Linked DNA regions of Homo sapiens. The protein of the gene in region 6 purifies or fractionates together with the protein of the main gene of each other region. This does not show direct contact. Each region holds a gene or a part of one and is shown on either strand. Other genes may lie near its edges. The genes, in order: LARP7, LSM4, RPL26L1, LSM3, LSM8, SART3 and PRPF8.

Region 1 (3,944 bases), on a different chromosome or scaffold from region 6:
AAAGAGGCACTGAAAAGGTAATTGATTCATTTTTGTTTTTTTAGACTAAACTTTCCTTGAACGTTTAATGCCAAAGTCAGTACTAGGTAGTCATAAAATGATCGTAGTTTTGCTATTACCTAACAAAAATTTACTGAGTATATACTATGTTTTAGGTTGGGAGGGAAAAGTCATTTCTCTAGATTTCAAAATGTATGAAATTGAATTATTTTTCTCACAAGGATACATAATTTTAATTTAGATTTTTTCTTTTTAACCAGTGATATACTTTAACAGTCTTGATATCTGGCTGCTATGTCTTGTAGTTTGGTGATAAATGATTATAGAAAGATTATCTTCATGGTAAAAACACAATGTATTCAGAATGTAGTTTATAAAGATAGGAGGCTCCATAGATAAGATGGAGAGACTTTATGCATAGTGTTTCCTATAGCAACGATAAGCTTTATTCCTCTTTCTCTAAGATAGTAGGTAATACAAACAAGCTTAAATAATTTAAAGCAAGCCCCTCTTTCAGTAATTTTATTTTTCTGTCACTTAAAATGATACTGGTCTGATCAGTAGTGGAATCACACCTGGGAATAGCCACTGCTTTCCAGCTTAGGCAACATAGCAAGACCCTGTCTCTTAAAGTTTTAAAACAAATTATTATACATGTAAAGGTTAGTACATTTTAAAAGTGCCTGGAACAAAGTAGGGTACATAATACCTAATATTAACTACAGTCATCAAAATTTAGAAATGCATATTATAAAAGTGTAAGAAAAATGAAAAAGATGAACTTCCTTTTTTGTTAGGTGAGCAAGTTAAAAGTCCTATTTCCTGTAATCTAAGCTTGTTGATTTGGGGTCATATTTATACAAAAAAAAAAAAAAACTAACTTAAAAAGCAAGTGTTTTTCATCAACCTTCTTCTACCATTGCCCAGAATTTATCGTGATTTGTGGGGAGGTGTGAATTTTGTTTCCTTGAAAGGAGACTGAACTTGCTGTGGTGGGGAAGCCTCCTGTGCTTCCCAAGGATTCTTTCAGGGATATGAGGTGTTAATTTCAAAGCCAGTTTGAGATTATTCAAATGTTAAAATCACTAATCCAGAACTGGTAACTGAAGTGAAGTCACTTTGTTAAATAATACCCTTCTAATTGGTGTGAAATTTCATTTAGATTTTATATATTTTTAAAACTAGGAATAAACCTTTTATTTTTCATTTTAAAAATTTAGAGCTCATCTTTGACTAGGAAGTTCTTAAATTGAGTTGGAACACAACTCAGTTATGACGTCAGGATTGTCGTTAACGCAATTTGTTAAGTAGCTATGGAAGTAGCCAGTTGACTCTTGTCGTGAAATGAAACGGAGGTTAACACAGAAAGTAAGTGCTGTGCAAAGCTTGTTGGAAAAAAGGAGTAGACCATAATTAGTTTAGCCAACTTGTTTGCTAGTTAATTCAGCTAATGATTTTTGAGTGCCTTGTGTTAGGCACCATTCTTGGAACCTGGGGTAAAGCCATGAATCACAAAGTCCCCTACTTTCATGAAGCTAACAGATAAACAATATAGTTTAGGTGATGACCAGTGCTAGACAGAAAAATAAAGTGTATTGCAGGAGAGCATTGTAACAGCTGAGGTTGTCTGGAAAACTCTCTGCAAAGGTTATGTTACAGCCAAGACCCATAAGGAAGTGAGCGAGTAAGCCCCAGTAAAGTTTAGAAGTATAGCTTTTCAGGCAGAAGCAAAGAAAATGCAGAGACCGGAAGGGAAGACTGTCAGGGACTAGAAGACCAGTGTAGTTGGAGTACTAGGAGCATCTTAGTAAGTAATGGAAATTGCTTAGAAAAAAAACTAGTAGAACATCAGTGAATCTGCCAAAAGGTTACATAAATACCTTACTGACCTGACAGCCCAATATTTCTACAATAGTGTTGTATTTGGCCCATAATTGAGTAAAAGTAAAAAAATTCTGGCTCTTAATATTCACATTATGGGGCCAGGCACGGTGGCTCATGCCTATAATCCCAGCACTTTAGGAGGCTGAGGCTGGTGGATCACTTGAGGTCAGGAGTTGGAGACCAGCCCGGCCAACATATTGAAACCCTGTCTACTAAAAATACAAAAATTAGCCAGCTGGCACGCACATGTAATCCCAGCTACTGGGGAGGCTGAGGCAAGAGAATTGCCTGAACCTAGGAAGTGGAGGTTGCAGTGAGCCAAGATGGCGCCACTGCACCACAGCCTGGGCAACAGAGCAAGACTCTGTCTCAAAAAAACGAAACTAAAATAATATATTAAACACAAGTAAATTAAATTAGTGATGTATCACAAAAGATCAAGAAGATGAAGGAAAGGTCTGCCAAAAGGGATGTCTCCTATTCATTTTGCTAGCCTAAATCTTTGTAGTATGCCCTATGATTTTGAACACATTGGTAAAAATAGATAACAGCTACTAGAGACAGAATGAAGCTTATTTCTCTTTGGCTTTTAAAACATTTGAATTCTTTTCTGTAAAAATTACTGATACTCAGCAGGTAAAGGCAGAATTTATAAAATTTGTGAACAGCAGCATGGGTATGATAGAGTTCTAAACATCTTTGGATTTTAATTCACCTCAATGATGAATAATAGGCTTTTAGTTTAATCTAAAAGTGAATTCCTTCCAATTGCCATATGGTACCAAACACTTTAAAACTATTTAAATGAATACTCATTAGAATCTATATTTTTTAGAGAAAAAGATTTGCATTTACTCCAAAGTTTAATATTTTAACTTTTTTTTCTCAAGGAAGCTTTTGGAATATTTTAGACATTTTAAACAGTTTTCTTTTTTATTCTGTGTAATTTCATTTGCCTTCCTTAAAAATATTCAACAATTTATGTAAGGGTGTAAGAAATAGGAAATAGTAAATAGCCTTAATAACAGATTTGATTTGTAATTGATTTGACCTGAGCATAATTATCTCATTTGTCATCTTCTCGCTGTTTTTAAAAAATTTCCATTTAAGCTGATAGCTGTGAAATTTTTTCTAGTCATAGTTTTGTGTGTGTGTGTGTGTGTGTGTGTGTGTGTTTTGAGTATCCAATACATTTTAATTTTTGATTTATTTCTCTTTAGTTAATCACCAAAGCTGAAAAGATTAGACTGGCAAAGACTCAACAAGCGAGTAAACATATAAGATTTTCTGAATATGATTGAAAAAAAAAACAGTTCACCTCTTAATACTTCACAAGATACTTGAGCTGTTCTTGGGAGATTCACTTTTATTATGGTAGCACTGCATAATTAATGTGTTTTTAATTAAAAGAAATATCTTTGTTCCTCAACTTGTAAATAAGACTTTTTTCTAGAGACAAATATGATGTATACCACAATTTTTCTTAAACATTTTATTTGTTGAAATTATCTTAGATGTCAGTGTCAGGTGATTTAGTAAATAAATGTGTTTTGAACATTATTTGGAAATGTGTTGATTTTGTTTTTATACTGTAAAAACAAAACATAATTGCAAAAATACTACATGAATATATATAAAGTTTAGAGAAATGTTTAACACTAAACTCTCACTGTACTTAGTTTGTAACTTGCAATACCTTCAATACCTTTTCATGTTGATTTATACAGACATGTTTAATAGTTCATTCTATTCATTCCACTTTGCCTATCTGAGCTTCCATTGAACAATAGACCATAGGGATTGGTTCTAATTAAAATGTTAAATTTTTAAAAGAATTGAGTTTCTTCATAAATCAAGTTAAATGTTTTGTTTTGGTTAGACAAAATAAAATGTATTAGGTGCTATTAGCACAAGAAGGAAAAAATAGAGGAATCAACCTTAGGCAGAACTGAGCTCTGTTATTTTATTCAGGAAAATCATGGGAGTGAAGCATTTAAAGCCTTCCCAGAATTGAACTTAACTGGGTCCATACAGGACTGTCATCTTAATCTCTTATCAAA
Region 2 (3,500 bases), on a different chromosome or scaffold from region 6:
AGGCTCCGAGGCAGCGCTGCAAGGGCAACCCCAAGAAGGAGGGATGCCACGTGTGGCTGTCTTCCCGCCCCAGGTACGTCCACTGGAGAGGGGAGACCCACCTCGGCCAGCGCCGCCCATGCCGCGGCCTTTCTGCTGCTTCTGCTGCTGCAGGCCTCCGCGGCCGCGGCCCTTGGCCACCACCTCCTCCTTGACCATGTCGATGATCTCGTCGGGGATGCGCAGGTACTTGATGGTGCTGCCGCGGATGTAGCACTCGGGCATCCGCCAGAACTTGTCCCCGTCCTGCGGAGAAGGGGAGCAGGTTATTAACTTACCACCGGGCCGTCTGGCCCAGCCCTGGGAGCGCGGGAGGCCCTGCAGATCCTGCCCAGCCTGCACCCCGTACCACCCCTGCAAGCTGCACAGTATCAGTCCCGGGACATACGTGGCAAAGGGTCCACCCTGCAGGCAGGATCTGTCCTGACCCCAGGCAATCCTTCACCCAGGAGCAAGGGTGGGTGTGGTAGGCGCAGCCCCCATTGTGCACTCACAAGGAAGACTGGCTCCTATCCTCTGCCCGTGGGCCTGGCTCAGGAGTGGCTGACTGGGGCTCCCTCCAGCCTGGGATGGGGCTCTCTCTGGTTGGGGTTCTTCACCTGCAGCCCAAAGCCCAGAGCGGGTGGGGGCCTCCCTGTGCACCAGACACAGCCGAAGCCCAGCTACTCCTCCTCCTGCCCCAGCCCCACCTCACTTCTGGAAGCCTCTCTACATGCCCTGACTCATTCATTCATCTAAGTATCTCCTGACAGGGCCTGCGCTGGGTGCAGGGACATGCGAGCAAGCTACAGGCCTAGTGTGGTGGGTGAAGAGGGGCGGGAAATGGGGGGACTTGGGTCCTGCCAGGGTGGCTCAAGGGCGGCTCCCAGCGATGCCAGTTTTAGGAGAGCTAACCAAGACTGGAGAAATGGGGGCCTTGCAAAGACACAGACTCATGCTGCAATGCCTCCGAGGCCCCCACTGGGACAGATCGAGGGATTAGCAGGGGCCAGGGCCATTCCTACCATATCAGTTTCCCAGCCCCGCCCCACCGCCCAGGTTCCTGGACAGACCCACGCACGACGCCTGGATGGCCTTTGCCCCCGATGCCCTTTAAAGTCAGATCACAGTATGTTCCAGCTTGGAACCCACCCAGGGCCCCCTCCAGCCTGGGGGCAAGGTCTAAGAACCTCAGCAGGGCTCTCTAGGGCCCGAGATCCTGCCCCGCCCTGGCGGTCCTCTCCCAGCCCGACGACACTCCCTCCAGATGGAACTTTCTGTTTCCGGAACACACGCCATGGGCTTGCCCCCAGAACTTTGCACGTGGTTTTCCCACTTCTCATCTGGCTAACTTTGACCCCAAAAGGCCTTACCTGCCCGAATCCCCAAGTCCTCCTGTCAGACACTCTCCTCCACACCTGGGTAGGTGTGGCCTGGCCTAGCGCTGGGCGGGGAGGAACAGCCCCTTTGGGTGCTCACTCTCCCAGGAACCCCTCGAGGGCTCGTGGGGCGGACACACCATGGTTCTGTGGGGACTCAGGGCCTGGGCAGGTGACTTGGCGCCCAGCTCTCCCAGGCAGGGCCCAGAGGCTTCCTCGTGCAGGAACCTGGGCAGGGCCTGAGCTCACTGCAGGGAGGCCCCTGCCTCCTGCCCACAGCGCTCCAGAGGTCTCTCAGCCCGGGGTCTCTGCATCCTGCGGCCTGCCTCTGAGGGAGGGAGGGCCCCACTTAGATGGGGACGATGTGAGTTCCCATCGCCTCTCCTCCCAGCCACATGTGACGGCAGCATCACCGCCTGGCCACAGAGGCAGGCTGCTCAGGGAAAGCCATCCGTCCACTCGAAGCTGGAGGCAGAGGCCAAACCAACCCCTGGAGACCACGCAGCCTCTGAATCAACAGGCTTCTCATGTCTAGGACCTGGAGGTGTCCACAAGACCGCACATGCTCACGCACGCAACACGCCTGGTGATTCCAATACCGGAAGTGGACAGAGCCCCGCTGGCCGCAGATGGGAGGCACGCGGTTCTGCACCAAGGCACCATCCGACACAGCCAGACTGGACCCACCCAGACGCCCTCCGACAGGCTATGGCACGAAACCCAGCAAGCAGTTTCTAGAGCTTCTAGCGCTGCTGCACAGCAGCCTCACCACCTGTCCCCACCCCGCCCAGCCCTGTGCTGATGAGAGGCCCAGTCCCGGGTGGGGGTGGCGGTCAGGGCAAGATACGGCCACTTCAGGAAGAAGCGCCTCCCCCCTCGAGCCCTGTTGTCCTGTCAAGGTGACCCCAGGCAGGCACTCCAAGCTCCCCAGCAGTTTCCTCCCTATACCATGGGGGGCTGTCACCCACAGGGAGACAAGACAGATGGGGTCAGGGAAGGTTGGTGGGAGGAGTCCAAGGGAGCCGCTGCCTTCAGCACCATCCCTGGCCTCCTCCTCAGTGCTCTGTGGGTCATCCCAGGGGCAGGGAAGGCCCGTGACACCAGGGGAACCATCTTCCAGCCCCGGCCGACCCAGCAGCACTCCTAGCCAGGCACTTCCGGTCTTGGGCTCTGGCTGGTGGCTCCTGACCCACCGGGCCCTGGCGCTGCTCCTGCCCACCGTGACCTGGGCATCCCGGACATCCCAGGGCCACACTACCATGGCCCGCAGAGTGCAGGCAACATCCAGGCTGGACTAAAGGCAGCAGAGTCCGGGAGTCTTGGGCCTCCCCTGGAGGGGGCTGCCCCAGCCTGAGCCACAGGGAGTCCCCAGTCCTAGGTCCTTCCAGGTCAGGGGTGGCACCAACAGACACACAGCAGGAAAGTCTCCCACAGGGTCAAAGTCCAGGGCACACTGGGAGACTTGGTGGCCTAGCTCACCCTGCCCTGTCCCTCCTGACTGACCCCTGGAAGGACGAGCAGTCCTAGGCGGCCTCCCCCACTGACTCCTCCCATGAGGCCCAGGGAGGGAGGGAGGAGGCTGAGTGTGCACCCCCTGCATCCCACCCCCGTTGGTGGGTGCAGCACCCACCCTGGACGTGCAGATGACTTCTCGCAGGTTAATGTTCATCCAGTTGTCGCAGCTCACCAGGTGTCCATTGTACGTCTCCCCATTTTTCAGCTCCACCAACTAGAAGAGAGACAGGCTAGAGGTTGGCTGTAGCCCTGGAGCCCTGCGCCATGGGCCCCTCAGGAGGTGTAGCTCTGCCCTGAGATGGACCACCACCTCCGGGCCTCAGCCCACAGTTCCCAGACCCCTAAATGGCCTTCCTTACAGGCGACAGGCTCTGCCTCCGCTAGACACTTCGCTGGCAGTTAGACAGTCTATCATGACGCCAACCTTTGTGCAATTAAAAAATGATACTGGGCCGGGCGCGGTGGCTCACGCCTGTAATCCCAGCACTTTGGGAGGCCGAGGCAGGCAGATCACGAGGTCAAAAGATTGAGACCATCCTGACCAACATGGTGAAACCCCATCTCTACTAAAATCATAAAAATTAGCTG
Region 3 (3,500 bases), on a different chromosome or scaffold from region 6:
AGGAAATAGTTTAGTTTGGAACATGCTAAATTTGAAGCATCTGGGGACATTCTAACAGAGAATTCAGACACAGCTGGAATGCCAACTGGGCCAGCAATAGAGACGTGGGAGTCATCCACAGAGAGGCAATTAGGAGCTTCATGTTGCTCAAGGAGTGATGGTATGAGAAAAGGGCAGAATGTACACATGTGAGAAAAGCCAGCATTTTGGAAGAGCTTGTGAGAGATTAATGTGGCCAGAGCGAATGGGAAATCATGCAAGTGTGGTGTTACAGCAGCCAAGAGAATGTCAAATTCTGTGGGACTGTCAAGAACACAGAGGATAAGGTATTTAACAGATCTGACAACAAGGTCATCAACAGTGGCTGTGGCTGGAATGCCTTCACTGAGTGCTGGGATGGAGGCCATTAACAGTAAAGTGATGAGTGTACCAGGTGAGAAGGTGAAGGTGAGAAAAGACAGTCCAAAGGAGCTTGGCTCTGAAGATGAGAAGGGGATAGATGTTTGAGGGGGATGGAAAGCTAAGGGAACTTTCCTTTATTTTTTATTTTTAAAGAAGGGAAAACATGATTGTGTTTAAATGCTGATGGAAGGAACAAGTATGGAGGAAGACGGTAAAAGAAACTACAGAGAAAGAAGATAAGGGACCAAAAAAGCTCCAAGAGAAGAATGGAGCAGCACCCAGTGGCAGATGGATTAGGCTTAGGCAGAAACAGGGATATTTCTTTCTTTTTTTTTTGAGACAGAGACTTGCTGTGTTACCCATGCTGGAGTGCAGTGGCGTGATCTTGGCTCACCACAACCTCCGCCTTCTGGGTTCAAGTGATATCTCATTGCCTCAGCCTCCCTTGTAGCTGGGATTACAGGCATGTGCCATCACGCCCAGCTAATCTTTATATTTTTAGTGCAGACGGAATTTCGCCATGTTGGCCAGGCTGGTCTCGAACTCCTGGCCTCAAGCGATCCACCTGTCTTGGCCTCTCAGAGTGTTGAGATTACAGGCGTGAGCCACTGCACCAGGCCTGGGATATTTCTTTCATTGTAACAGAAGGGAAAGAAAATAAGAGGGGTGGAACTACAGGTAAACGTGTAGGTGTGGAGCCACGATTTCTGAAAGTTCCTGGCTGATAACTTCAATTTTCTCTGTAAAGTAGGAGGAACCATCACCTACTCAGAGAAAGAGGAAGGTAAGTGAGATTCAGAAGATCCCGTGAGAGGAGGCAATATTAACAAACCCAATCAGGGCTATTTTATTCTCCTGGTGGAGAAGTGTTCAGCCAGCATGGCCTTTGGCTGAAACAATTCATACCTCTTAGGCATTCAAAAAATGGCAACAGGCAGCCGGGCGTGGTGGCTCACGCCTGTAATCCCAGCACTTGGGGAGGCTGAGGCGGGTGGATCACCTGAGGTCAGGAGTTCGAGACCAGACTGACCAACATGGTAAAACCCCGTCTCTATTAAAAATATGAAAATTAGCCAGGCATGGTGGTGTGTGCCTGTAATCTCAGCTACTTGGGAGGCTGAGGGAGGAGAATGGCTTGAACCCGGGAGGCAGAGGTTGCAGTGAGCCGAGATTGTGCCACTGCACTCCAGCCTGGGCAACAAGAGTGAAACTCTGTCTCAAAAAAAAAAAAAAAAAAAAAGGCAACAGGCCAGACACTGTGGCTCATGCCTGTAATCCCAGCACTTTGGGAGGCCAAGGCAGAAGGATTGCTTGAAGCCAGGAGTTTGAGACCAGCCTGGGCAGCAAAGCAATACCTATTTTTAAATAAATAAATAAATAAATAAATGTCTCTAATTTAAAATATATATATATTTAACAGCAGCTCCTTCTCCCTCTTTGCCCTCCTTCTCTGTCTCACCTTCTACATCTTACCTACTCAAAAAATTTTTTTCATTCATTCAACAAATATTGACTGACCCTTCTCCTCTCTAAGTGTCAGGCTCTGCACTGAGGTCAGACAACAAACAAGATGAACTCTCTGGTTTCATGGAGCTTAGCCTGATGGCCAGTAAGCAGTTAATGAGTACATAGACAAATACATGACCACTAACTGGAATAAGTCACATAGGAACTTACTGGGATGATTAAAAATGGTCTTTTTAATGGTCTAATCATAATTAGGGTAATGGCTATTTGGTTTTACATTTGCCAAAACTGACCTGTGCATTTTACTGTGTGTAAATTATGCCTCAGTTAAAAATAAAATGATTTCAAATTGTGCTTACTGCTACGAAGAAAAAATAAAGAATGCTAGGCTATAATATTGGTTAAAGGATCTGGGAAGGCTTCTCTGAGGAACGGACATTTAAGGTAGGACCCGAAGAATGAGGAGTTACCTATGTAAAGGAGAGAAGGAAGAGCACTCCAGGCAGAGAGAACATTCCAGCGGGAGAAAAGATCAAGGTGTATTTAAAGACCCCAGAAGCCCAGTGTGGTTAAAGTGTAGAGCACATGGGGGTTAGGAGGAGATGAGGATGGAGAAGTAGACCAGGATTGGCCCATAGAGGGCCTTGCAGTCAATGATTTTAGATTTTTTTTTTTTTTTTTGAGACCGAGTTTTACTCTGTTGCCCAGGCTGGAGTGCAGTGGCGCAATCTTGGCTCACTGCAACCTCTACCTCCTAGGTTAAAGCGATTCCCCTGCCTCAGCCTCCCGAGTACTTGGGATTACAGGTGTGTGCCACCACACCTAATTTTTGTATTTCTAGTAGAGGTGGGGTTTCACCATGTTGGCCAGGCTGGTCTCGAACTCCTGACCTCAGGTGATCCACCCACCTCAGCCTCCCAAAGTGTCGGGATTACAGGCGTGAGCCACCGCGCCTGGCCATGATTTTAGATTTTATAAGCACATCAGGCACCATTGGTAAGCACCTGGCTAACTCCTCATTTCTCAGGTCTTCTCTTAAATGTATTAGTTCCTCAGAGAAGCCTTCCCAGGTCCTTTAATCAATATCATAGCATCCTTTATATTTTCTTCATAGCAATGAACACAATTTGAAATCATTTTATTTTTAACTGAGGCATCATTTACATACAGTAAAATGTACAGGTCAGTTTTGGCAGATATAAAACTGCCAAAGGATTTTTTTTTTTTTTTTTTTTTTTTGAGACAGAGCCTCACTCTGTCACCCAGGCTGGAGTGCAGTGGCATGATCTTGGCTCATTGGAAGCTCCCCCTCCCGGGTTCACGCCATTCTCCTGCCTCAGCCTCCCAAGTAGTTGGGACTACAGGCGCCCACCACCACGCTCAGCTAATTTTTTATATTTTTAGTAGAGATGGGTTTCACCGTGTTAGCCAGGATGGTCTCAATCTCCTGACCTCATGATCTGCCTGCCACAGCCTCCCAAAGTGCTGGGATTACAGGCGTGAGCCACTGTGCCTGGCCGTTTTTTGTTGTTGTTGTTGTTGTTTTTGAGACAGAGTCTCACTCTGTCACCCAGGCTGGAGTGCAATGGCACAATCTCGGTTCATTGCAACCTCCGCCTCCCGGGTTCAAG
Region 4 (3,500 bases), on a different chromosome or scaffold from region 6:
ACAGTAGCACGATCTCAGCTTACCGCAACCTCTACCTCCCAGGTTCAAGTGATTCTCCTGCCTCAGCCTCCCGAGTAGCTGGGATTGCCAGTGCCTGCCGCCACGGCCGGCTAATATTTTGTATTTTTAGTAGAGACAGGGTTTTGCCATGTTGGCCAGGGTGGTCTCGAACTCCTGACCTCAGGTGATCCACCCGCTTTGGCCTCCCAAAGTGGTGGGATTGCAGGCATGAGCCACTGCACCCAGCCTTTTTTTTTTTGAGACAGCGTTTCACTCTTGTTGACAAGGCTGGAGGGCAATGGCACAATCTCAGCTCACTGCAACCTCCGCCTCCAAGATTCAAGCAGTTCTCCTGCCTCAGCCTCCCAAGTAGCTGGGATTATAGATATATGCCACCACACCCAGCTAATTTTTTGTATTTTTAGCAGAGACAGGGCTTCACCATATTGGTCAGGCTGGTCTCGAACTCCTGACCTCAGGTGATCCACCTGCCTCAGCCTCCCAAAGTGCTAGGATTACAGGTGTGAGCCACCATGCCTGGCCAGGTTTTTTTTTTTTTTGAGACGGAGTCTCGCTCTGTCGCCCAGGCTGGAGTGCAGTGGCGGGATCTCGGCTCACTGCAAGCTCCGCCTCCCGGGTTCACGCCATTCTCCTGCCTCAGCCTCCCAAGTAGCTGGGACTACAGGCGCCCGCCACTACGCCCGGCTAATTTTTTGTATTTTTAGTAGAGACGGGGTTTCACCGTTTTTTTAGCCGGGATGGTCTCGATCTCCTGACCTCGTGATCCGCCCGCCTCGGCCTCCCAAAGTGCTGGGATTACAGGCGTGAGCCACCGCGCCCGGCCCAGGTTTTTTTAATGAATAAATATTTAAAAAATTTTTCAGTTTCAGTTTCTAATAAATTAAGTATTAATAGATCAAATCCACAGAAAACGAAAGAACACTGTCCACTATTACTGTTACACACTATTATACATAGCCACCTTGCATTGTTGTATCTCACTGAATCTGGGAACCCTATGAGGTAAGTGGTAGTATTCCTGCTCACCAATGAGAACTCAGCTAACTTAATTCCCTTGCCCAAGGTAGCCCAAGTAGGAAGTGGTCAAGCCAGTACTGGCAACAGGGTCTGTCAGATGCCAGAACCCTTGCTTTTAATTGCTATGCTCTACTGAGTCCATAAGTAGGTGTCAAAACATGACAGGCTTCCCATAAATATGGGTTAAGCTGTTCGAGAGAGAACAGCTGATATTTGCAAAGCAATGAATAGAATTGCATGACTTACTTTATATATCTCTTCATATGTTTCTTCATCAATTTCTATAGTAGTCACAGTTTCTTCCACATCTCCCAAGATCATATTTAAATGTTGATCATAAGCCTAAAGTGGGAGGGTACAGAACCAAGAAATTTAATAATCAAATTACAAAAATGATAAAGGCTTAACAATATGCAAATTGCTCAATTACAACTAGGGCATTTGATACTTACATCACAAACTTTTACATGCAAATAAAAAGTAATCCTACAGTACTAATATACTGTTTCTTCACAAGTCACTTCCAATGATTACTTAATTGACCTGATAAAAATATAAAACTGCTTATATTGCCAAAAATAAATTTACTTCAAATCACTTGAAATTATTTTTAAAGTCTCCACCCCACTTGTTATCTAAGGCAGTCACATCATTTATAATATTTAATTATGAAAAACAGCAGATTCATCTTCATCATTTATCAGTAGACATCCTTCAATTTCACCTATAACAATCTGACAAGAAAAATACAGTAAAGAAGATAAAATCCTTTGTTTACTGGTAAGATAATGCCATTGCAGTCTTCTAAAGGCACACAGTAGACCACATGTCGCAGAGAGAAAGTAAGTAGAGCAACACCCTGCCCATTTCTAACCTATCCAGAACTTAAATGTGTTTAGTACCTGTGGGCTCAATCAATAAATGTTACAGCTAAGATATTCAATCCAAGCTCCAAAGTTCATTCATTTTACTAAAAGGTGCACTTTCTGGGACCTTGTTCAGAACTCAAGTTTACTTCTAACAACGTGTTACATGGTTCACCTGCTCACATCAAAATAAAAGTCACTTGTCAGCCATGTGGGGAACTGCTAAGCAGGGCACACTAACAAGATCAAACATGTATAGCTGAGAGGCACAAAACAAACAGAAAGTTGGGGCCATTTAGGATAGAGACCATCAAGTTTACACAGGGAACTGAAGAAGCCTCCAAGAGCCACAAACTTAAGTAATTAAACTCAATTCCATTTGTATTCCCAAAGTTACCACCATTCCTTTCCTGGAGTCTCTCTTCCTTTAAGGCCAGCTGTAGATTGTCTCCCTGGGTCCCTATTTCCTTTCCAAGCCCAGAGGTTCTTTATCTTTAGGTTTTGTGGAAGGCGGAACCACAGTACTTAAGAGTGGGGCTCAGGTCAGACAACCTAGATTCAAATTCTGGCTCTCCCTTTACCGTCAAGTGACTGTACCTTTCTGAGCCTGAGCTTCCTACACTGCAAAGCAGGAATAATTAGTATGTATCATCATAGGGTTGTTATAAAGATTAAATGAGATATCACACACAAAATGCTTAGAATAATAGTACCTGGTCTATAATTAATGCTCAATAAATGTTAGCTATTTTTAATCACTTTAGGGTAGAGTAGCAATACTAAAAACAACACACTTAGGAAAGTAACAAGTCATTAAGGAGAGGCAAAACCTTCAGGGTTCTCTATGAACAAATGGGATTATTTCAAGGGACCAATTCTACAGATATTTTGCAGATATGCACAAAGAAATATGTAAAAAAATGCTTACTGCAAGTATTTACGTATTTGTAGCAAGAAATGAAAAAAAATCGATCACTATCATATACAGAATCCTAGGTAGTCATTAAAAAGAATAAACGAAAATTAAATGCACTCATGATCAATTTCCAAGAAAGATTAAGTGAAAAAAAAAAAAGGTACTGAAAAACATGTATGGCAAGATCCATGTTTTGTAGAGGTAGGGTGTACATAATGCAAGTATGTGCACATGTACATATATGAGTGTATATGTGTAAACATACAGAAAAGGTAACCCAATTTTTAAATTTTATTTTTTGTAGAGACAGGGTCTCTCTATGTTGCCCAGGCTGGCAACACAGAGAACTCCTGGCCTCAAGTGATCCTCCTGCCCCAGTCTCCCAAAGTGCTGAGATTACAGGAATGAGCCACTGCACCTGGCCAAGATAATCCCATTTTTAGTAGTGATTACCAGTAGAAGAAATGGGATTTCACTTTTTACTCTATATATTTTTGTGCTGTTTAACTTTTCCTAATAAAACACATATTTGTGTTTTAAATTTAAAAAACATTTACGAATGGAGGACAAGTAAATATTATTTACAAATAAACAGAAGGGAAAAATGAAGGGAATAAAAATGTTCTATAATAAACGTATTTCTATTAAAAGAAAAAATGTTAAAAATGTGAATACATGCC
Region 5 (3,500 bases), on a different chromosome or scaffold from region 6:
AGTTACAGATTTCATTCTCATTTTATTTCATTCTCTTTTTTATTTCATTCTCATTTTATATATTTTGACTTTCAGAAGATAAAACAGTTTAAGAACTTGAGAGGTTTAACCATCAAAACCAATGTTAGTTGATATTTCTTCAGAAACTTGAATACCATGTGAGTTACTCTGTTATGCTAGACCCATGTCTTCTTTTATTCAATACTAAGCTTTCATAAAACTCTCCCTGATTATTTCCTTCAAGTTCTGGTTTTAATTAGTATAGTCACATTTGTATCTACCTTACTGGGAGAATTAAACAATAAATCCATATGATACACATTAAACAATACATGTGAGACACACAGAACACTGGTAACTAGTATGTACTCATTAGGTGTTACATGTAACTACTAGTTAAATTTTTAGTATATTTATGGGACTGATTTGAATCTGAAAAATGGCAAATTATATTTACTTGTGTATAATAGTATAGAATGTTATGGTTTAGTGGTCTGGCTCAGGAGCTAGCCTTTTGTGGTTCATCTCCTGGCTCTGCCACTTACTACCCATGTGATCATAAGACACACCATTCTGTGCCTCAGTTTCTTCTTTGAAATGGGGCTAATTATAGTACTAAATCAAAGGGTAGAGATGAGTTGAGAAAATGTGTACAGTGTGTTTAGCACACTGCCTAGTGCTGGCATATAGCATATAGTGATACTATTACATTGCTGTAGTTGGTATGTATGGTTCTTCCTTATTTATGTATATTTGGCTATCATTTTCCCTTAAATATCCTTTGTCTTAGTTTATACCTTTAGCTGCTGGTCTACATAAGCTTTTATGCTACTTACTTGGAGATAGTCACATTAGTACATAGGTGTCCTTTGCAACTGCTGTCAACTCTACATATGAGTGAGATGTGTGGTGCAGGTCCCCCCACCCCAGCCAAATAACCAAGAGGTAAATTGTGTACCCTCGAATACTGTTGGTTATAAAAAAGGCATTTTATTTGCCGTCGTATAGGTACTTGTATTGGAATACCTGGCAACTAAAATGACTGTGAGGTTAAATTTACACTTTCAGGTAAACCAGAATATTTCTCTTTTTCTCCTGAATATTTTCTTTACAGGGAACACTGAAAGGTTTTGACCAGACCATTAATTTGATTTTGGATGAAAGCCATGAACGAGTATTCAGCTCTTCACAGGGGGTAGAACAAGTGGTACTAGGATTATACATTGTAAGAGGTGACAACGTGTAAGTAAAATATATCTGTTAAAATTATAAATGATACTGCCTTACTTTATGGAGAAGAGGCTTTCCCCAAAATACCCTACTGTATTGTCCATACATAGTTAATAGAATCTTGCATTCATTTCTTTCGTAAATATACCTTTTCTTATGTTTGTGTAAAATAAGGCATATGTATACATTTTATGTCAGCACTTCTTTAGGTTTCAACCAAAGCTGTCTCTCTACAAATTAAACTTTTACCTGAGATTTGCCCATTTTTCTACTAGTTAAGTAGCCTGGGTAGAGTCCAGAAAGGGCTCTGCCTTATATTAAATACTTCATTAGAGAGACTTCTTAAAACGTTCTTTCAAATACCCAGAATTTTAGAGGAACATATTTCTAGAGTCCAAGGCCAAAGTTTGAAAAATGTTTTGAAATCTCTGATTTGAACAATATTAATTCATGCTCAATAACATAGGTGTATTTATAAATAAGTACTTACTCGTTATTCATTTTCTTTTAATTTTTTAGTATCATTGACACACTTAAGATGTCCCTGTGGCCTCAGTTTACTTGGGACAGACAGATATAAAAGTTCAAGAGTAATTGGCCAGGCATGGTGCCTGTAATCCCAGCACTTTGGGAGTCTGAGGCAAGTGGATCAGGTCAGGAGTTCAAGACCGGCCTCGCCAACATGGCAAAACACTGTCTCTACTAAAAATACAAAAATTAGCCAGGCTTGGTGGCGTGCGCCTGTAGTTCCAGCTACTTGGGAGGCTGAGGTGGGAGAATCACTTGAACCCAGGAGGTAGAGGTTGCAGTGAGCCGAGATCACCCTACTGCACTCCAGCCTGGGTGACAGATTGAGACACCAATTCAAAAAAAAAAAGGCCGGGCACAGTGGTTCAAGCATGTAATCCCAGCACTTTGGGAGGTGGAGGCGGGTGGATCACTTGAGGTCAGGAGTTCGAGACCAACTTGGCCAATGTGGTGAAACCGCGTCTTTACTAAAAATATAAAAATTAGCCAGGCGTGGTGGCGCAAGCCTGTAATCCCAGCTACTCGGGAGGCTGAGTCAGGAGAATTCGCCTGGGAGGTGGAAGTTGCAGTGAGCCGAGATCGCAGCACTGCATTCCAGCCTGGGCAACAAGAGCAAAACTCCGTGTCAAAAAATAAAAAAGAAAAGTGGCTAATGTGGTTCACGTGCCGTGGCTCATGCCTATAATCTCAGCACTTTGAGAGGCCAAGGTGGGTGGATCACCTGAGCCCAGGAGTTCAAGACCAGCCTGGCCAGCATAGTGAAACCCCGTCTCTCCTTAAAATAGAAAAATTAGCCTGGTGTGGTGGTGCATGCCTGTAATCCCAGCTACTTGGGAGGCTGAGGCAGAAGAATTTCTTGAACCTGGTAGATGGAGGTTGCAGTGAGCCAAGGTTGCGCCTTTGCACTCCAGCCTGGGCAAAAAGAGTGAAACTCCATCTTGAAAAAAAAAAGAAAAGTGGCTGATGTGACAGAGGAACTGAATTTTAAATTTTATTTAATTGTAATTAATTTTAATAGTTACATGTGGCCAGTATTAGTATAGTTATAGAGGCTAGAAGAATGCCAAATCAGTTTTCTAGTGAGTACTACACTGAATCAAAATATAGTTGGAAAGAAGCAAAAGATACATTAGCAATTTTAAGCTAGAACATTTAACAAATTCTAGGGGACTAACTGTCCCCTGGAATAACTTAAAAAGTGCAGGAATAATTTACTCATTTAAGTTGTTTATGTTAGCATCACCTTTAGATGAATAAATAATTTGATCTGTAATCAAAAATCAAGAGTTTATAAAATATTTTAGAGATGACTTTTAGGTGGAGTTACAAGGTGAGCTGTAAGTAATGAGAGAGAGACAGAGCAGATAGGGCCCAGGTCTCTGGATCAGAACAACACTGTTTATATTGGAGCTGTGCATAGTAATTGATTTTAAGGTTTCTCCTACTTAAAACAATTTTTTTTTCTTGAACTTCAGTGAAAAAAGTCTTGTGCTAGAGCCAGCTTCTACTGGCCCATGAAAGCATATTGTTATATTTTAAGGAATTTTACAAGCTGGTTAATTGATGTCTTGTTAGTAGCTTGAAATTGGCCGTGGTGGGAGTGTTTGCACAATGGATATTAGTAAATGCAGCAAATCAGTCTCCCGCTTTTTTTCCAGAGAGCTGGTTTTTAAAAATGTATCAGCATTTCCCTGCTTACCATAGGGATTTTAAATGATACTGAATATTATCATTTAAAATTT
Region 6 (3,500 bases):
TTATATATTTATATTTAGTAAATTTAATAATACATTAAAATTCCTTTTAAAAAACACAAAAAACTTCCCAGTATTGCCTTCTATTTAACCCTGTACTGGAGGTCTGGGGTTTTAACAATGAGACAAGGAAAAGAAACAGATATAGAGAAAAGAATGAGAACTGTTAATTATGGTCAGATGATATCAATGTATAGTAAACCAAAACTCATCTACAAACAAATCATTTGGAAATAATAAACAAGATTAGCAAAGTGACAAGCAATAAGAGCAATGTATAAAAATCAATTATATACAAAGAGACAAATACTGTATGATTCCACTTATATGAAGTATCTAGTCAAATTCATAGAGACAGAAAACTACAATGGTAGTTATCAGGGGATTGGGAAGGAAGGAGAAGGAGAGCTGTTTAATTGGTAGAGTTGTATATATGCAAATGAAAACTTTGGAGATCTGCTTCACAACAATGTGACTATACTTAACACTACTGAACCATACACTTAAGAATAAGATAGCAAAGTTTACGTTATATGTTTTTTACAATAAAAAAATTACATTTCTATAAACCAGCAAGCTTTAAAATGTAATTTTAAATAGGATAGCATAAACATCAAGCACTATAAAGTACCTAGAAATACATCTAACAAAAGATGTGTGAGACCTCTATGGCAAAATGTTTTTAAACTTGATTGAAAGATATTAAAGACTTGGCCGGGGGCGGTGGCTCACACCTGTAATCCCAGCACTGTGGGAGGCCGAGGCAGGCAGATCACTTGAGTCCAGGAATTCAAGACCAGCCTGGGCAACAGGGCAAAACCCCGTCTCTACAAAAACTGTAAAAATTAGCTGAGTCTGGTGGCACATGCCTGTGGTCCCAGCTACTCGAAAGGCTGAGGTGAAAGGATCGCTTCAGCCCAGCAGGCGGAGGTTGCAGTGTGCTGAGATCATGCCACTGTACTCCAGCCTGGGAAACAGAGCAGGACCATGTCTCAAAAATAGAAAGAATATTCAATACCTAGACGAATGGAGTTATATGCATGTTCTGGGTTAGAATAATCATTATGGCAAAGACGTCAATTCTCCCCTAAATAATCCATAAATTCAATGCAATTCAAATAAAAAAACCAACAGGGTTTTTCACAGACCTTGACAAAATAATTCTAAAATTTATATGAAAGAGCCAAAACACCCTGCAAGGAAAGAAAAAAAGCAGGTAGGAGGATTTGTCTTACCAGATAGCAAGCCTTAGCAATAAGTTAATCAGTGGAATTGGCACAGGATAGACAAACTGAAGAGAGAGCCCAAAACAGACCCATGCAGTTGAAAAACACTATGGCTCAGGTGGCACTTGCTGTTTCAGCTAAAATAAATTCACAACCTATGACTATGACCCCCAGGTTGAAAAACAGTGACTTTGAGAAACTCTCTTTTTTTTTTTTTGAGTCAGGGTCTCACTCTTACCCAGGCTGGAGTGCCGTGGCAGTCACAAATCACTGCAGCCTCAAATTCCCAGGCTCAAGTGATCCTCCCGCCTCAGCCTCTTGAGTAGCTGCTACTACAAGCTCATGCCACCACACATAGCTAAATGTTTTAAATTTATTTTTTGTAAACACAGGGTCTCACCATCTTGCCCAGTCTGGTCTCAAACTCCTGGGCTCAAGGGATCATCCTGCCTCAGCCTCCCAAAATGCTAGGACTACAGGTGTGAGCCACTGCATCTGGTGAGAAACTCTTGTACATGATGTGAACTGCTTTGTATTTATCAAATTACATGCCAAAAGATAATAATCAATTACAGATAAGAACATGATCTCTAAGTTTTAAATCTTAAGACTTTTAGCAATGTTCTCCTGCTTATGATTCATAAAACCTGAGAAGCTGAACTCATCCGATGATCACACGATAGGCTGAAAAGCACTGGACCAGATCAGGACACAAGTGTTCTAATCCCCACTTGTTCTGTTTCCTCATCTGTACCATGAAAGAGCTGGGCTAAAGCTCTGGTTCTTAAATGGGCTATCATGACACACTGATGTTTCAAAATCACCTATCAAGTGTGTCACACAAAGTAACCGCAGTTTGGGATGTTTGAGAAGTGAAGTTTGAGAAGGATACACTTTCTTCATTAAAGAACATTCAAGGCTCTCCCCACCACATCACCAGTCTGAACTCAATAGAGTGTGCTTGCGGAGCACAAACAGGAGTGGGAGAGCACTTGCTAGTCAGTGTCACGAATATCTATGCATGCAAGTGCCCCTCACATGAACACCATGTGTGGATCAGCAGAAGAAAAAGGTATAAAAGTCGCTAAAGTCAAGAAGCTGACTTTTAAGGTGTGGCTTTTGGTGTAAACTTCTGATTTTTAGGGTAAAATGATGAAGATACTATATGTGGACAAGTACTCTGAAAGTACATATATTAAATACATACTGAAATGCACTTAAAAGAGCTATTTCCACATAGTTCAATCTATACTGATAAATGAGTACATATGCTGGTCTATTCTGGTCTTAGAACATCATTAATGACATAGTTTTTTTTTTTTTTTTTTTTTTTTTGAGGTGGAATCTTGCTCTGTCACCCAGGCTGGAGTGCAGTGGTGTGATCTCAGTTCACTGCAACCTCTGCCTCCCGGGTTCAGGCGATTCTCCTGCCTCAGCCTCCCGAGTAGCTGGGATTAACAACATAGATGCTTTAAAGGAAACTTAACCAATCACAAAATGATCTGCTAACTGATTTAACTCCCTAGCAATGTGAAAAATGTGTTATACCTAGCTGTACTAGAATGGGGGAGAAATAATAGAGAGGACTGATGGAAAGAAAACAACTGGTGCAATCAAAGGCAGGGAAGGGAGAATGGAGCAGCACCTATTATGCGCCAAACTGTGCCAGGCGCTTTACGCACATTGTGCCATGCCCCACAACAGTCCCATGAGGAAAGCACTATTACAACCTTCATTTTACTAACTGGGACACCCAAGACTCTGCGAGCTGAAATAACTTGTACAAGGCCTTTCCACTACTCAATGGAAGGCTTGGGTTCAGGGTTGCAAAGCCATAGTCTCCGTACTGCTGCACTGACAAATCTGCCGAAGCCACCATGAAGTGCCACTTTTAATTTCAGCGCACAAACACATATAATGGAAAATATTTGCTTTTGTTAGACAGATACCACAGCAAACTGCCAGCTACCATAAAATATAATCAAGGCCACGTGCAGTAGCTTGCGCCTGTGATCCGAGCACTTTGGGAGGCTGAGGCAGGAGCATCACTTCAGCTCAGGAATTCAGCACCTGCCTGGGCAACATAGTAAGAACCCATCTCTACAAAAAAAAAATATTTTTAATTAGCCAGGCATGGGGGTGCATGCCTGTAGTCCGAGATACTTTGGAGGATGAGCTGGGAGGATCACTTGAGCCTGGGAGGTCCTAGCTGCAGTGAGCCATGATCACACCACTACTCCAGCATGGGCAAGAGTGAGATGCTCTCAAAAAAAAAAA
Region 7 (3,500 bases), on a different chromosome or scaffold from region 6:
GGGATTACAGGTGCCCGCCACCACGCCTGGCAATTTTTTTTTTGTTTTGTTTTGAAACTGAGTCTTTCTCTGTTGCCCCAGCTGGAGTACAATGGCACGATCTTGGCTCACCACAGCCTCCGCCTCCCGGGTTGAAGTGATTCTCCTGCTTCAGCCTCCCAAGTAGCTGGGACTACAGGCGCGCACCACCATGCCTGGCTAGTTTTTGAAATTTTAGTAGAGATGGGGTTTCACTGTATTGGCCAGGCTGGTCTTGAACTCCTGACCTCAGGTGATCCACACTCCTCGGCCTCCCAAAGTACTGGGATTACCAGCGTGAGTCACCGTGCCCAGCCTCACTGGACTTAACTTTCTCAGATCTTTTTTCATGTATACATTTAGACAGGGCTCTTTCCAGGGACCTATTTGGAGAGCAGCTATGACTGTGTCCTTACTGCTCCTTTAAATTCACATGGGCGATCTTAGTTCCTGGTTTTTGCCTTAAGGTTTCTCATTTACCCTTTTGTTTTAGATGTTGAGGTCCCAGAGTTTTTTTTTCTTTTTACCCCTCTACTGCCATACCTACATTCCTCTGTATGTATATTATACATATATGCCCCACCTCTGCCCAGGTTTCTATTGTTGTTTAAATGCATTGCTAACTTGTATTCTTAACTTCTGCTTGGGATCGTAGGGCCCTGTAGGGAAGGGTCCTGGCTGTGGCTTCTGGGCTGCCGGTTGGCGAGTCTGGCTCTTTTTCATGCGTGGCATTACCCCTTTATTAGAGCGATGGCTTGGCAACCTCCTGGCCCGGCAGTTTGAAGGTGAGTGGTTTTCTCTGTGTCCAACTTCTCCTGTTATTGCTTCAAAAGTACCTGCCCCTGTTTGAGTCTGTTCCCTGCTCTTGTATGAGCACTCTTCCTACTGGATTGCCTTTAGGTCCAGTTCTGAAATGAGTCTGACCTAGTATTCTATTTCTTGGGCTTCCTTCTGGGGCCTTGAGAGGCAGTCATGCATTTGCAGGAGTGGAAATTCCTCAGAAGCATAGTTGTGAATGTTTAAGGTAGCTCGTCTTTTTGCATATGCTGGGCACAGGGACGCTTTGTTAATACCTAATTTTATTAATAACCATAATGAGTGAGGAGCATGAAGGTAGAGACCCTTATTGAAAGCAAGGAATCTTCCTTGTAATCCCCTTGGGACACTCTACTTCCAGGTCGACACTCAAAGGGGGTGGCAAAGACAGTAACAAAGCAGCGAGTGGAGTCACATTTTGACCTTGAGCTGCGGGCAGCTGTGATGCATGATATTCTGGACATGATGCCTGAGGGGATCAAGCAGAACAAGGCCCGGACAATCCTGCAGCACCTCAGTGAAGCCTGGCGCTGCTGGAAAGCCAACATTCCCTGGAAGGTGGGTGTCTCTTTATTTCCTTGGAGGCGTAAACATCCGTCTTTAGGGTAGGATTACCACTTCGGGAATCATTAGGGGGCTATCTGGCTCCAATCTCTTTTCTTTTCCCTTTTAGACAGGGAAAAGAAGCACCATGTTGCTTAGGCTGGCCTCAAGCTCCTGAGCTCAAGCGATCCTCCTTAGCCTCCTGAGTAGCCGGGACTACAGATGTGTGCCACAGTGCCTGGCTGGATCCTGGCTTGATTGTGCTTTTTGGACTTTTAGGTCCCTGGGCTGCCGACGCCCATAGAGAATATGATCCTTCGATACGTGAAGGCCAAGGCTGACTGGTGGACCAACACTGCCCACTACAACCGAGAACGGATCCGCCGAGGGGCCACTGTGGACAAGACTGTTTGTAAAAAGAATCTGGGCCGCCTCACCCGGCTCTATCTGAAGGCAGAACAGGAGCGGCAGCACAACTACCTGAAGGTTGGGCAGAGTAGGCTGGGCTGGGTGTGAGTGGTGGGGGAGTGGGCAAGAGGGAGGACTGTAGAGTTGTGACTGAACCTTGTTCTGGCAGGATCGGGCTGTAGCGGGAGGCTAATTTCATGTCCACCTTACAGGACGGGCCTTACATCACAGCGGAGGAAGCAGTGGCAGTATATACCACCACAGTGCATTGGTTGGAAAGCCGCAGGTTTTCACCCATCCCATTCCCCCCACTCTCCTATAAGCATGACACCAAGTTGCTCATCTTGGCATTGGAGCGGCTCAAGGAAGCTTATAGGTGAGTAGTAGGGTAGATAGGTTCCTGCTGGGAAGGTGACAGCAGGGAATGGCGTCATCCTCAGAGTCCAAAGAAAGAAGGTGTAGCCCCAGTCTTTCCTGGTTTTACTTCCTCCTAGTTTTCCCATTCACCCTTCCCATTGCTTTTGTCAGTGTGAAGTCTCGGTTGAACCAGTCTCAGAGGGAGGAGCTAGGTCTGATCGAGCAGGCCTACGATAACCCCCACGAGGCGCTGTCCCGCATCAAGCGTCACCTCCTCACACAGAGAGCCTTCAAAGAGGTGAGTGAGGCCTCCCAAGTTTTCTTTTTGGTTCTACCAAAGGTAGCAGTTGCCTTTGGTTCTACCAAAGGTAGCAGTTGGTGGATTGGTGTGAACCAGCCTCCTTGTCCCACAGGTGGGCATTGAGTTCATGGATCTGTATAGCCACCTCGTTCCAGTATATGATGTTGAGCCCCTGGAGAAGATAACTGATGCTTACCTGGACCAGTACCTGTGGTATGAAGCCGACAAGCGCCGCCTGTTCCCACCCTGGATTAAGCCTGCAGACACAGAACCACCTCCGCTGCTTGTTTACAAGTGGTGTCAAGGTAGAACTTTCATGAGATCGCCCTGTGAGGAACGGGGCAGGAATTTAGTTCTACGTCAAAAATCTCATCTGGGTAGCATGATTGGTTTACTCTCTTGATGCGTGGTAGTAAAGGGAAGTAGTGTTCGTGTTAAACTGAGGAAAAGCCCATAGTCAAAGCAATCCAAATGAATACGTGGAATCATAGTGGGATTGGTTATGGAAGGTAATGATAGTTCCTGTGGGGCTAGTCTTGCAAGAGGATTTCTAACCTGCTGGAGACCTGCCTTGCTACTCCTCAGGCATCAATAACCTGCAGGACGTGTGGGAGACGAGTGAAGGCGAGTGCAATGTCATGCTGGAATCCCGCTTTGAGAAGATGTATGAGAAGATCGACTTGACTCTGCTCAACAGGCTGCTGCGCCTCATCGTGGACCACAACATAGCCGACTACATGACAGCCAAGAACAACGTCGTCATCAACTATAAGGTGCGTCTCAGGCGCAGTAGCATGGAATTGTGTGTGGAGTGCTTGTCTGGCCCACTGACTCAGAATTTGCTGAGGAGGAGGCTGGGTGCGGTGGCTCATGCCTGTAATCCCAGCACTTTGGGAGGCTGAGGCGGGCAGATCACGAGGTCAGGAGTTCGAGACCAGTCTGGCCAACATGGTGAAACCCCGTCTCTACTTAAAAAAATACAAAAATTAGTTGGGTGTGGTGGTGGGCGCCTGTAATCCCAGCTACTTGGGAGGCTGAGGCAGGAGAATCACTTGAA

What was found.
Region 1: the proteins of SART3 (region 6) and LARP7 purify together in Homo sapiens (affinity purification with mass spectrometry; 5 studies listed by BioGRID and IntAct, with this or other methods). This does not show direct contact.
Region 2: the proteins of SART3 (region 6) and LSM4 purify together in Homo sapiens (affinity purification with mass spectrometry; 5 studies listed by BioGRID and IntAct, with this or other methods). This does not show direct contact.
Region 3: the proteins of SART3 (region 6) and RPL26L1 purify together in Homo sapiens (affinity purification with mass spectrometry; 3 studies listed by BioGRID and IntAct, with this or other methods). This does not show direct contact.
Region 4: the proteins of SART3 (region 6) and LSM3 purify together in Homo sapiens (co-immunoprecipitation; 3 studies listed by BioGRID and IntAct, with this or other methods). This does not show direct contact.
Region 5: the proteins of SART3 (region 6) and LSM8 purify together in Homo sapiens (affinity purification with mass spectrometry; 5 studies listed by BioGRID and IntAct, with this or other methods). This does not show direct contact.
Region 7: the proteins of SART3 (region 6) and PRPF8 purify together in Homo sapiens (affinity purification with mass spectrometry; 4 studies listed by BioGRID, with this or other methods). This does not show direct contact.

The regions. Positions count from the first base shown.
Region 1 is NC_000004.12:112,654,143-112,658,086, forward strand, and holds the end of LARP7 (la-related protein 7), read left to right. Parts: coding exon 1-17; intron 18-3,104; coding exon 3,105-3,185; 3' UTR 3,186-3,444; downstream 3,445-3,944. UniProt on the Homo sapiens protein: RNA-binding protein that specifically binds distinct small nuclear RNA (snRNAs) and regulates their processing and function.
Region 2 is NC_000019.10:18,309,577-18,313,076, forward strand, and holds part of LSM4 (U6 snRNA-associated Sm-like protein LSm4), read right to left. Parts: intron 3,127-3,500; coding exon 3,028-3,126; intron 286-3,027; coding exon 102-285; intron 1-101. UniProt on the Homo sapiens protein: Plays a role in pre-mRNA splicing as component of the U4/U6-U5 tri-snRNP complex that is involved in spliceosome assembly, and as component of the precatalytic spliceosome (spliceosome B complex).
Region 3 is NC_000005.10:172,962,424-172,965,923, reverse strand, and holds part of RPL26L1 (ribosomal protein uL24-like), read right to left. Parts: intron 1-3,500.
Region 4 is NC_000003.12:14,181,817-14,185,316, reverse strand, and holds part of LSM3 (U6 snRNA-associated Sm-like protein LSm3), read right to left. Parts: intron 1,381-3,500; coding exon 1,285-1,380; intron 1-1,284. UniProt on the Homo sapiens protein: Plays a role in pre-mRNA splicing as component of the U4/U6-U5 tri-snRNP complex that is involved in spliceosome assembly, and as component of the precatalytic spliceosome (spliceosome B complex).
Region 5 is NC_000007.14:118,187,164-118,190,663, forward strand, and holds part of LSM8 (LSM8 homolog, U6 small nuclear RNA associated), read left to right. Parts: intron 1-1,114; coding exon 1,115-1,242; intron 1,243-3,500. UniProt on the Homo sapiens protein: Plays a role in pre-mRNA splicing as component of the U4/U6-U5 tri-snRNP complex that is involved in spliceosome assembly, and as component of the precatalytic spliceosome (spliceosome B complex).
Region 6 is NC_000012.12:108,554,674-108,558,173, forward strand, and holds part of SART3 (spliceosome associated factor 3, U4/U6 recycling protein), read right to left. Parts: intron 1-3,500. UniProt on the Homo sapiens protein: U6 snRNP-binding protein that functions as a recycling factor of the splicing machinery. Promotes the initial reassembly of U4 and U6 snRNPs following their ejection from the spliceosome during its maturation.
Region 7 is NC_000017.11:1,674,868-1,678,367, reverse strand, and holds part of PRPF8 (pre-mRNA-processing-splicing factor 8), read left to right. Parts: intron 1-673; coding exon 674-803; intron 804-1,195; coding exon 1,196-1,392; intron 1,393-1,656; coding exon 1,657-1,863; intron 1,864-1,997; coding exon 1,998-2,161; intron 2,162-2,313; coding exon 2,314-2,440; intron 2,441-2,555; coding exon 2,556-2,748; intron 2,749-3,028; coding exon 3,029-3,216; intron 3,217-3,500. UniProt on the Homo sapiens protein: Plays a role in pre-mRNA splicing as core component of precatalytic, catalytic and postcatalytic spliceosomal complexes, both of the predominant U2-type spliceosome and the minor U12-type spliceosome.